Linked DNA regions of Homo sapiens: region 2 is linked to region 1. The links come from fine-mapping of genetic effects on gene expression. Tissue or cell type: adrenal gland. Region 1 holds a variant in brackets; the other region holds the start of a gene. All regions are shown on one strand. Distances are between the middles of the regions.

What was found. PIP is the estimated chance that this variant, and not a neighbour inherited with it, causes the effect.
Region 2: NME5 starts here. The variant in region 1 is the best candidate, but not a certain one, in a credible set for the expression of NME5 in adrenal gland (GTEx, PIP 0.68).

The regions. Positions count from the first base shown.
Region 1 is chr5:138,379,994-138,384,391 of GRCh38, forward strand. KDM3B (lysine demethylase 3B) reads left to right here. Exons shown (of 24, transcript NM_016604.4): 6 at 1,523-1,597. Among named protein-coding and RNA genes, the nearest start is that of KDM3B, 30 kb to the left of the region's middle. The variant C/T (reference allele first, on the strand shown) is at 2,220.
Region 2 is chr5:138,137,182-138,141,530 of GRCh38, forward strand. It overlaps NME5 (NME/NM23 family member 5), which reads right to left and starts at 2,247. Exons shown (of 6, transcript NM_003551.3): 1 at 2,190-2,247; 2 at 1,471-1,604. The coding sequence starts at 1,599. BRD8 (bromodomain containing 8) reads right to left here. Exons shown (of 27, transcript NM_139199.2): 26 at 3,524-3,701; 27 at 2,589-2,985. The coding sequence ends at 2,893.

The sequences.
Region 1 (4,398 bases):
TGTATGACAGTAGTAGTATTATATTCATAAAGGTTAGTAGTTGGAGTGCAGTGGTGCGATCACAGCTCACTGCAACATTTGCCTCTCGGGCTCAAGCAGTTCTCCCACCTCACCCTCTGGAGTAGCTGGCACTACAGGCGTGTGCCACCACACCTAGCTAATTTTTCTATTTTTTGTAGAGAAGGAGTCTTGCTATGTTGCCTGGCTGGTCTCAAACTCCTGAGCTCAAGTGATCCGCCCACCTCAGCCTCCCAAAGTGTTGGGATTACAGGCATGAACCACTGCACCCGGCCAGAATATTATTATATTATATTTATTTATATGATATATATGAGTTATATGATATATAATTTATATGATATATATAATTTATATGCTCTATAATTATATAAGTCACACTTTAGTAACAAATAAGATCATATAGTACATATAGTTATATAATTTACCTTTTTTACTTAATTGTATATAGTGAGCATTTTTGTATGTAAATGTAAAGATCTGTCTCATCCTTTAAAATAGATGCGTTCTTTTCCACTACATGGATATATCATGACTAATCTAAAATTGATAGACATTTAAATCATTGCCAATATTTTCACTAATATGTCACAGTGAACATCCTTGAACATTTTTTACATTATTTATTGGAATAAATTTATATGTATAATTGCTAGGTCAAAGAATATGCACAATAAATTTGAAATTTTCTATCAAATTGCCCCCCACTGAGTTTTTATTCTTTAATAGTAGAATGATTCTTTTTTAAACAGAGTCTCACTGTGTTGCCCAGGCTGGTCTCGAACTCCTGGTCCTCCTGCCTCAGCCTCCCAAAGTGCTGGGGTTACAGGCATGATCCACCATGCCCAGCCTGGAGTGATTTTTTTTTTTTTTTCTTTTTGAGACAGAGATTTGCTTTTGTTGCCCAAGCTGGAGTGCAATGGCACGATCTCGGCTCACTGCAACCTCCGCCTCCCAGGTTCAAGCAATTCTCCTGCCTCAGCCTCCTGATTCGCTGAGATTACAGACACGCCACCACACCCAGCTAATTTTTTGTATTTTTAGTAGAAACAGGGTTTCACCATGTTGGCCAGGCTGGTCTTGAACTGCTGACCTCAGGTGATCCACCCACCTTGGCCTCCCAAAATGCTGAGATTACAGATGTGAACCACCGCACCCAGCCCTAGAGTGATTCTTTTAATGATTATTGGTTCTGAAGGTTTTTTGTTTCATACTATACAGAATAGGACAGTTTTAGAGATACAGGATTCAGAATTAACATCGCTAAAAGACACAGTTGGACATGAATTCACTTCTTTCATTCATTCACTTAAATATTTGAATGCTTACCATATTCTAGACCTGTTGTAGCAGTAAATGAGACAGTAGAGATCTCTGCTCTCATGGAGCTTTCATTCTAGTAGGTGAGTTGAATCAATAAAGAGATAATTACATTGATTAGGAAATTATATAATTATGTCTTTATGGACAAGGCATTAAATATCTTTTTCCCCTCCTACTGTAGAGTGGTGAGATCAAGTCGGTAGATCCCAGACTAATCCATGTGATGCTGATGGATAATTCAGCGCCTCAAAGCGAGGTACAGTAATGGACTGCATTCCTGAGCAGACTCATGAGCTTGCATTATCTTGCTGTGTGTAGATCCCTTATATATGTGTTTTCCATGGATGCCTTTTGAGTTGTTCAGCTTTAGCCACTGTACATTTTTTTGCTCTCTCCACAGTCTGTCTAATTAAGGGGGGATATTCTCAAGAAAGAGACCTAGTTTGAGCAAACCCTTTTAAGCATGACTATGTTCCCTAGTTCTTCTAAAGTGCAAGGCTGGTTTCTTCCTATATTCTGTCAGGACAGGTATATTTGAAAGATATAGTAGTCAGTTAAAAGTGCAATAAGCAGTAGTAATACTCGTGATCTACCAAGTAACAAGAAGTGAAGGATAAACTACGTCCACTTTTTTTTTTTTTCCATTCGGTGGCAGTGAGCTCCAACGGAGTCTGAAATTCTGTATTCCCAAGTAGAATCAATTCAAGCTGGTACCTAGTTCAGTGCTCAGCCCCCAGTGCATTGGTTACTCCATAATTGTTATGAACCAGCCCAACTCTTGGTTTATTCAGAATTAATATAGCCCCAAAAAAGATACATTAAAGCTCTCTGGGCCAGGTGCAGTGGCTCACGCCTGTAATCCCAGCACTTTGGGAGGC[C/T]GAGGCAGGCGGATCACCTGAGGTCAGGAATTCAAGACCAGCCTGACCAACGTGGTGAAACGCTGTCTCTACAAAAATACAAAAAAAAAAATAGCCAGGCCTGATGGTGGGTGCCTGTAATCCCAGCTACTCGGGAGGCCGAGGTGGGAGAATCGCTAGAACCTGGGACGTGGAGGTTGCAATGAGCTGAGATCGCACCATTGCACTCCAGCCTGGGTGATAGAGCAAGACTCCGTCTCAAAAAAAAAAGTAAATAAATAAAAATCTCTGCCTGAACCAATCGAGTAATTCTGTGTGAATTTCCTTCAGTTGACCAGCTGTCCACATATTCCTCACAGTATCTTGGCACCTCTGTAATATTGCTGTCGTTGCCACTCCTGCTAAGTATATAGTCTTTCCTCATCTTTATCCAGTCATTCTTGACTTCCTAAAACAAGATCAGAATAGGAAAAGAAAAAAAATTTTTTTTTTTTGAGGCAGGGTCTCGCTATCTTGCCCAGTCTGGTCTCAAACTCTCACCTAAGCCTCCCAAAGTGCTGGGATGACAGGCATGAGCCACTGCACCTGGCCAGGGTTAAATTTAAGAACTGTTTACTACATGTAATATTACCACAAACAGGGTAAGTCTCTTGACTGTGTTTGCATGCCAAAAACACCTGCTACTTTGATCGTGTATTGGTCCCCTTTTTTGTTCCTTTCCTTATTTCATTCCTTCATTAAGCATATATTGTATGCCAGGTACTGTTCAGCTGGCCAAATAGAACTGGGGAGTACTGGTCTCAATGTTGTAGGCTGCTTACTCACGTATGAGTAGCTCACTGTAAGTAGGACTTACATATAAGTTGTTTAGGGACTGGTAGTATGTTGCTGTGAGCCAGGCTCTGCAAGTTGGCTGGATGACTTATAGGTGGGATGTTTGTTTTTGTTTTTTTCTTTTTTTTTTTGAGATGGAGTCTTGCTCTGTCACCCATGCTGGAGTGCAGTGGGGTGATCTTGGCTCACTGCAACCTCCGCCTCCCGGGTTCAAGTGATTCTTCTGTCTCAGCCTCCTGAGTAGCTGGGACTACAGGCGCACACCACCATGCCCAGCTAATTTTTGTATTTTTAGTAGAGACAGGGTTTCACCATATTGACCAGGCTGGTGTCAAACTCCTGACCTCGTGATCCGCCCACCTTGGCCTCCCAAAGTTCTGGGTTTACAGGCGCGAACGAACCACCACGCCTGGTGATCTTTGGTTTTTAGCAGCAGATGTTGGGTCTTCCTTTTTTGGTATTAACATGATATTACTGTTTTCTTTGCTAGCAGAGTCCAATTATTTTTTATAGTTCTGCCAAGTTTTATAGTAACCCTTTTTAGAGATCCATGATCACCTCATCTCCTTTAAGTATGGGTGAATGAACAAGAAAGAACAGAGTTCACTGATTGTGATCTGCAACAGTGAAAACTGGGTGGTGATAGAGATTGAGAAAGAATTTAAAAGCTTTTAAAAATCAAAAGAGGCCGAGGCAGGTGGATCACCTGAGGTCAGAGTTTGAGAACAGCCTGGCCAACATGATGAAACCCTGTCTCTACTAAAAAACACAAAAATTAGCTGGGCGTAGTGGCGGGCACCTGTAATCCCAGCTACTTGGGAGGCTGAGGCAAGAAAATCGCTTGAACACAGGAGGCGGAGGTTGCAGTGAGCTGAGATTGTGCTATTGCACTCCAGCCTGGGTGGCAAGAGCAAAACTCCGTCTCAAAAAAAAAGAAGAAAAAAATCAAGGCCAGGCGCGGTGGCTCACGCCTGTAATCCCAACACTTTGGGAGGCCGAGGCGGCTGGATCACGAGGTCAGGAGATCGAGACCATGGTGAAGCCCCATCTCTACTAAAAATACAAAAAAAATTAGCCGGGCGCGGTGGCGGGCACCTGTAGTCCCAGCTACTCTGGAGGCTGAGGTAGGAGAATGGCGTGAACCTGGGAGGTGGAGCTTGCAGTGAGCCGAGATCGTGCCACTGCACTCCAGCCTGGGTGACAGAGCAAGACTCCGACTTAAAAAAAAAAAAAAAAGTCAAAAGAAAACAACACTTAGCAAACAGATAAAGTTCTTGAATGAAAGGTTTAGAGGCTGGGCGTGGTGGCTCATACCTGTAATCCCAGCACTTTGGGAGGCCGAGGTGGGCAGATCACCTGAGGTCCG
Region 2 (4,349 bases), 240 kb before region 1:
GTTATTTACCTGAGTCTTTAATCATATTAAATACTTCCTAACACTTTCTTGTGCCATCCCTACTCTCGGACTCCACCTGTCCTTTGAAGCTCAACTGAAATTCCGTATCTTTTCTGAAGATTGATATTTTCTCTTTATTTATTTATTTATTTTTTGAGACAGATCTCCCTCTATTGCCCAGGCTGGAGTACAATGGCGTAGTCTTGGCTTACTGCAACCTCTGCCTCCTGAGTTCAAGCGATTCTCCTGCCTCAGCTTCCCAAGTAGCTGGGACTACAGGTGCACGCCACCACGCCCAGCTAATTTTTGTATTTTTCATAGAGATGGGGTTTCACCACATTGGCCAGGCTGGTCTCAAACTCCTGACCTTATGATCCACCCATCTCGGCCTCCCAAAGTGCTGGGATTACAGGCGTGAGCCACCGTACCCGCCATTTTCTCTTTATTTTTAAAAATACTGACTGAATAAGCAATATGACACTGTATAAATGGGAGAAAATAAAAAATTGGAAGTTCGAATGAGAATACTGTAAAAGAGGCGGGGTGCAGTGGCTCACACCTGTAATCCCAGCACTTTGGGAGGCCGAGGCGGGTGGATCACGAGGTCAGGAGTTCAAGACCACCCTGGCCAACATGGTAAAACCCCGTCTCTACTAAAAATACAAACATTAGCTGGACATGGTGGTGCATGCCTGTAATCCCAGCTACTCAGGAGGCTGAGGCAGGAGAATTGCTTGAACCGGGACCTGGAAGGCAGAGGTTGCAGTGAGCCGAGATCGTACCACTGCACTCCAGTCTGGGCTACAGAGGGAGACTCTGTCTCAAAAAAAAGAAAAAAAAACTATAAAAGAGGAAGATTAAAAATATTCAATTCTATTTGATTTATCCTTAACAATGCTATTTATATTCACTTTCAAACCCCTAGAATGACAATGTTTACTAATTGCAGAACATAAGGCTTAAAACATTAAATGTTATGCCATAACTGAAAAAAGTACCAATAGCCTAAAATTCCATCAATAGAAGATCAAGTAAATAAATTGTAGTTCTAATACACAGGGAAATATTACACAGAAATTAGGAAGAGTGAGATCAATTCAGATGCAATGATCTGGAATCCTATCTGAGGGACTCTGTAAAGGGGTCAAGGGAAAGGGACTGTTCTGTTTTATGGGGGGAAAATGTTTATAAATGCATAGAAAACTCCTGGAAGAACAGAAAGTGTTAAGTGGTTGCCTCTCTCTGGAGCCTGGGACTTGGGGTAAAAGAGGACAGGTGAAGGAAAAGTCCATTTTATTTCTCATTTTACATCCTTTTAAAAACTATCACATATAACTTTTATACTTAGAAGAATAAACTTAAATTTAATGCTGAACACTAAGGGTTTAAATGGGTAGGCACATTTACATAAGCATTTTTTTTTTAAGGGCAGAGAGGAAAAAAGCATGAATCATCATACCCAGAAGTTACCTGAACAATGGTGAATCCGGATCTAAGAATAATATCTTGTATCTCCTCCTCTTTGTCAACAATATCTGGTTTGATAATGGCCAGAGTTTTTTCTACATATATCTGAGGTGGAGGCATTGATATCTCCATTATGGCTTTTCAGGGCACAAATTAAGAGTTTCTTAACAGGTATCAACTGCAATGACATGCATTTCCCCCCACCCCCATCGCAAATTCAATGTAATTATGATTAAGAATAGCAATAGTAGGTACTTGATTTTATTAACTGATGAAGGTAGAAACTGCCATGTTTTTCTATATACAGGGTCTCAATAATAGGATTCCTACTATGTCCAAATCGAGCCCCGGCTTTTCGTATACGATGTCACCAAGGCAGGAAGGACTATGGGCTCACATAACCAGAGGCCAAGGGGCGACCCGAAGGCCTGGAACCAGCAACAGCCCCAGGCAGCAGAGGGCGGTGGGGCGGGTGGTGGGGGCTCGAGGGGGCGGTAGAGCGGGTGGTGGGGGCTCGAGGGGACGGTGGCTGGTGGGCAACCACACACCATTACAGCGGCGGGTGAGCGGCCTCGGCCAGCTGCCTCTGTGAAGCGACCCTGTCCCGCAGGGACCTCTCTGTGCATAGGGTCAGGCTAATTGAAAAGCAGGGCCTCTAGGTCCGCGGGGACTTTCCGGGTTGCACCTGCAAATTCTGAATTTGACCCTCTCTAAGTACTCACCTCAGCGGCCGTCCTCATATGGTACAACTTGTTGCTAGGAGACCTGAAGCCCCAGCGTGGGGACGGTGGCTGCAGAGAGCCAATCCCAGCAAGGAACCTTGCAGCTTCTGGCCAGTTCGTTTTAACCAAAGGGAGCCAGCCAGTCACTTTTATTCTCCTTGTGAATCTTAGAGCACTAGATGTTTTCTGACATTTTACTCATAATTTATCTTATTTCATCCTTCTTCCCGTTTGAAGGATGCTTCAATTATCCCTACTCTATAAATGATAAGAACCCCTCCCCCAACCATTCCTTTCCAGGCGGTATATGTAAATGACCCGTGTCAGATACCTTCGTTTCACCAGATGATGCTGTGCCCTCTATGCCCAGCTTATCTAGTCATTAAAAAGCAATATTCCTATTGTGTAAATACATTTATTTATAGAGTAAAAGGCTTAGAAAAGATCTAATGGAATTGTCTTTAAATCAAGCCGATGGAACAAAGATGTGGGCAACATTTATGGCATAAATCCAAACCTCAGCTTCCCCTTTTTTTCTTTATATTATGTCCACATGCATCTTTGACTCGTTGGTTGTGAGTTAAGGTATTATTCTTGTTGGAAAAGAAAATGAGGACATGGCAAAGAAGTACCAGGATCCTCTCTAGGTCAGAGTTCCGGGAGAGATTCAAACTCTAGAAAAAGTCAGGATAGCAGCTCCAGGTTAGAAAACAGGTTTTCCATCATCCACTGGGTTAGCTGGTTCTCCTTCCAGACTACTTGAGCCTTTTCTTTTGTCTAACCAGATATTCAGTACCTAAAGGGTTAAGGAACACATAGCAAGCTATTATGAACCTTAAACACTAAAGTATTGCAAGTTTATTTTTTTGGCAAATAGACTCAACTATACTTTTTTCTTTAAAGTATGATGCTACCCAGAAAAGAAACCCACAAATGTCTTCTAGCTACTATATCTTATCCCCTAAAGATGGGAAAGTGTGAACGTACATTAATAACAACAGATGAAGCAACCAAAAAATACACAGTGACTCCAGCCTCTTTGGAGTTTAGCCCTTGACTTGAGGCTCTGGAAGCGGGAATTCCCATTACTTGTCTATCCTCAGCTCTCTTGAGAGCTCTTCACTGCTGCCTGCATTCCTAGACTACTTCACTATCAGAGCTGGACTTACTGAGGCTCAGGGTTTTCCAAACCAGCAGGCACATTATCAATCCTTCAGGGCCTTAATCACCTTTAAAAATAAACTCTGAGAACACAGTCACCTCGAAATCACCTTTATTCTCATAGGCGTTCTGAAATCAAGATTCCAGAGGCTACAGGTATCTGCATACAGTACCTGAATCTGCTCCAGGACTTCTTGCCGCATCTCCACAGCCATATGGTATACATGATGATCAGAGTCATTGTACATTACAGCATTTTGGAACATCAGCATCAGGTCTCGCAGGAATTGGGCCATGGTGCGAATCCGACCCTTAGAGAGATTTCTCTTCAGGCTAGTTAAGTCCATGGGTCTGCAGGTGGCCAAGAAAAAACAAAGAAAATCAAACCTTCATGTGGAACATATGATAACCTAACACGTTCTCTTGAAGAACTAACCAGTTCTTAATGAAAACAGTAGCAAAGATAACAACCCTCATCAGATAATAAAATAGCAACAGCAGTTAATATTTGCCTGTTTACAATGGGCCAAACACTGTATTTCTATACTAACTCACTTAATCCTCTCAATAAACCTGTAAGGTAGGTATCATTAATATCTCATTTTTTTTTTTTTTGAGTCGGAGTTTCACTCTTGTTGCCCAGGCCGGAGTGCAATGGAGCAATCTCAGCTCACTGCAACTTCCACCTTCCAGGTTCAAGCAATTCCCCTGTCTCAGCCTCCAGAATAGCTGGGATTACAGGCGTGCGCCATCATGCCCAGCTAATTTTTGTATTTTTAGTAGAGATAGGGTTTCACCATGTTGGTCAGGCTAGTCTCGAACTCCTAGCCTCAGGGGATCCACCTTCCTTGGCCTCCCAAAGTACTGGGATTACAAGTGTGAGCCACCGCCCCCGGCCTTATTATCTCCATTTCACAGATGAAGAAATTGAAATCTAAAGAGGTTAAGTACTCACTGAAAGGCACACAGCCTGAATTCCAATTCAGAGGCAGCCTGACT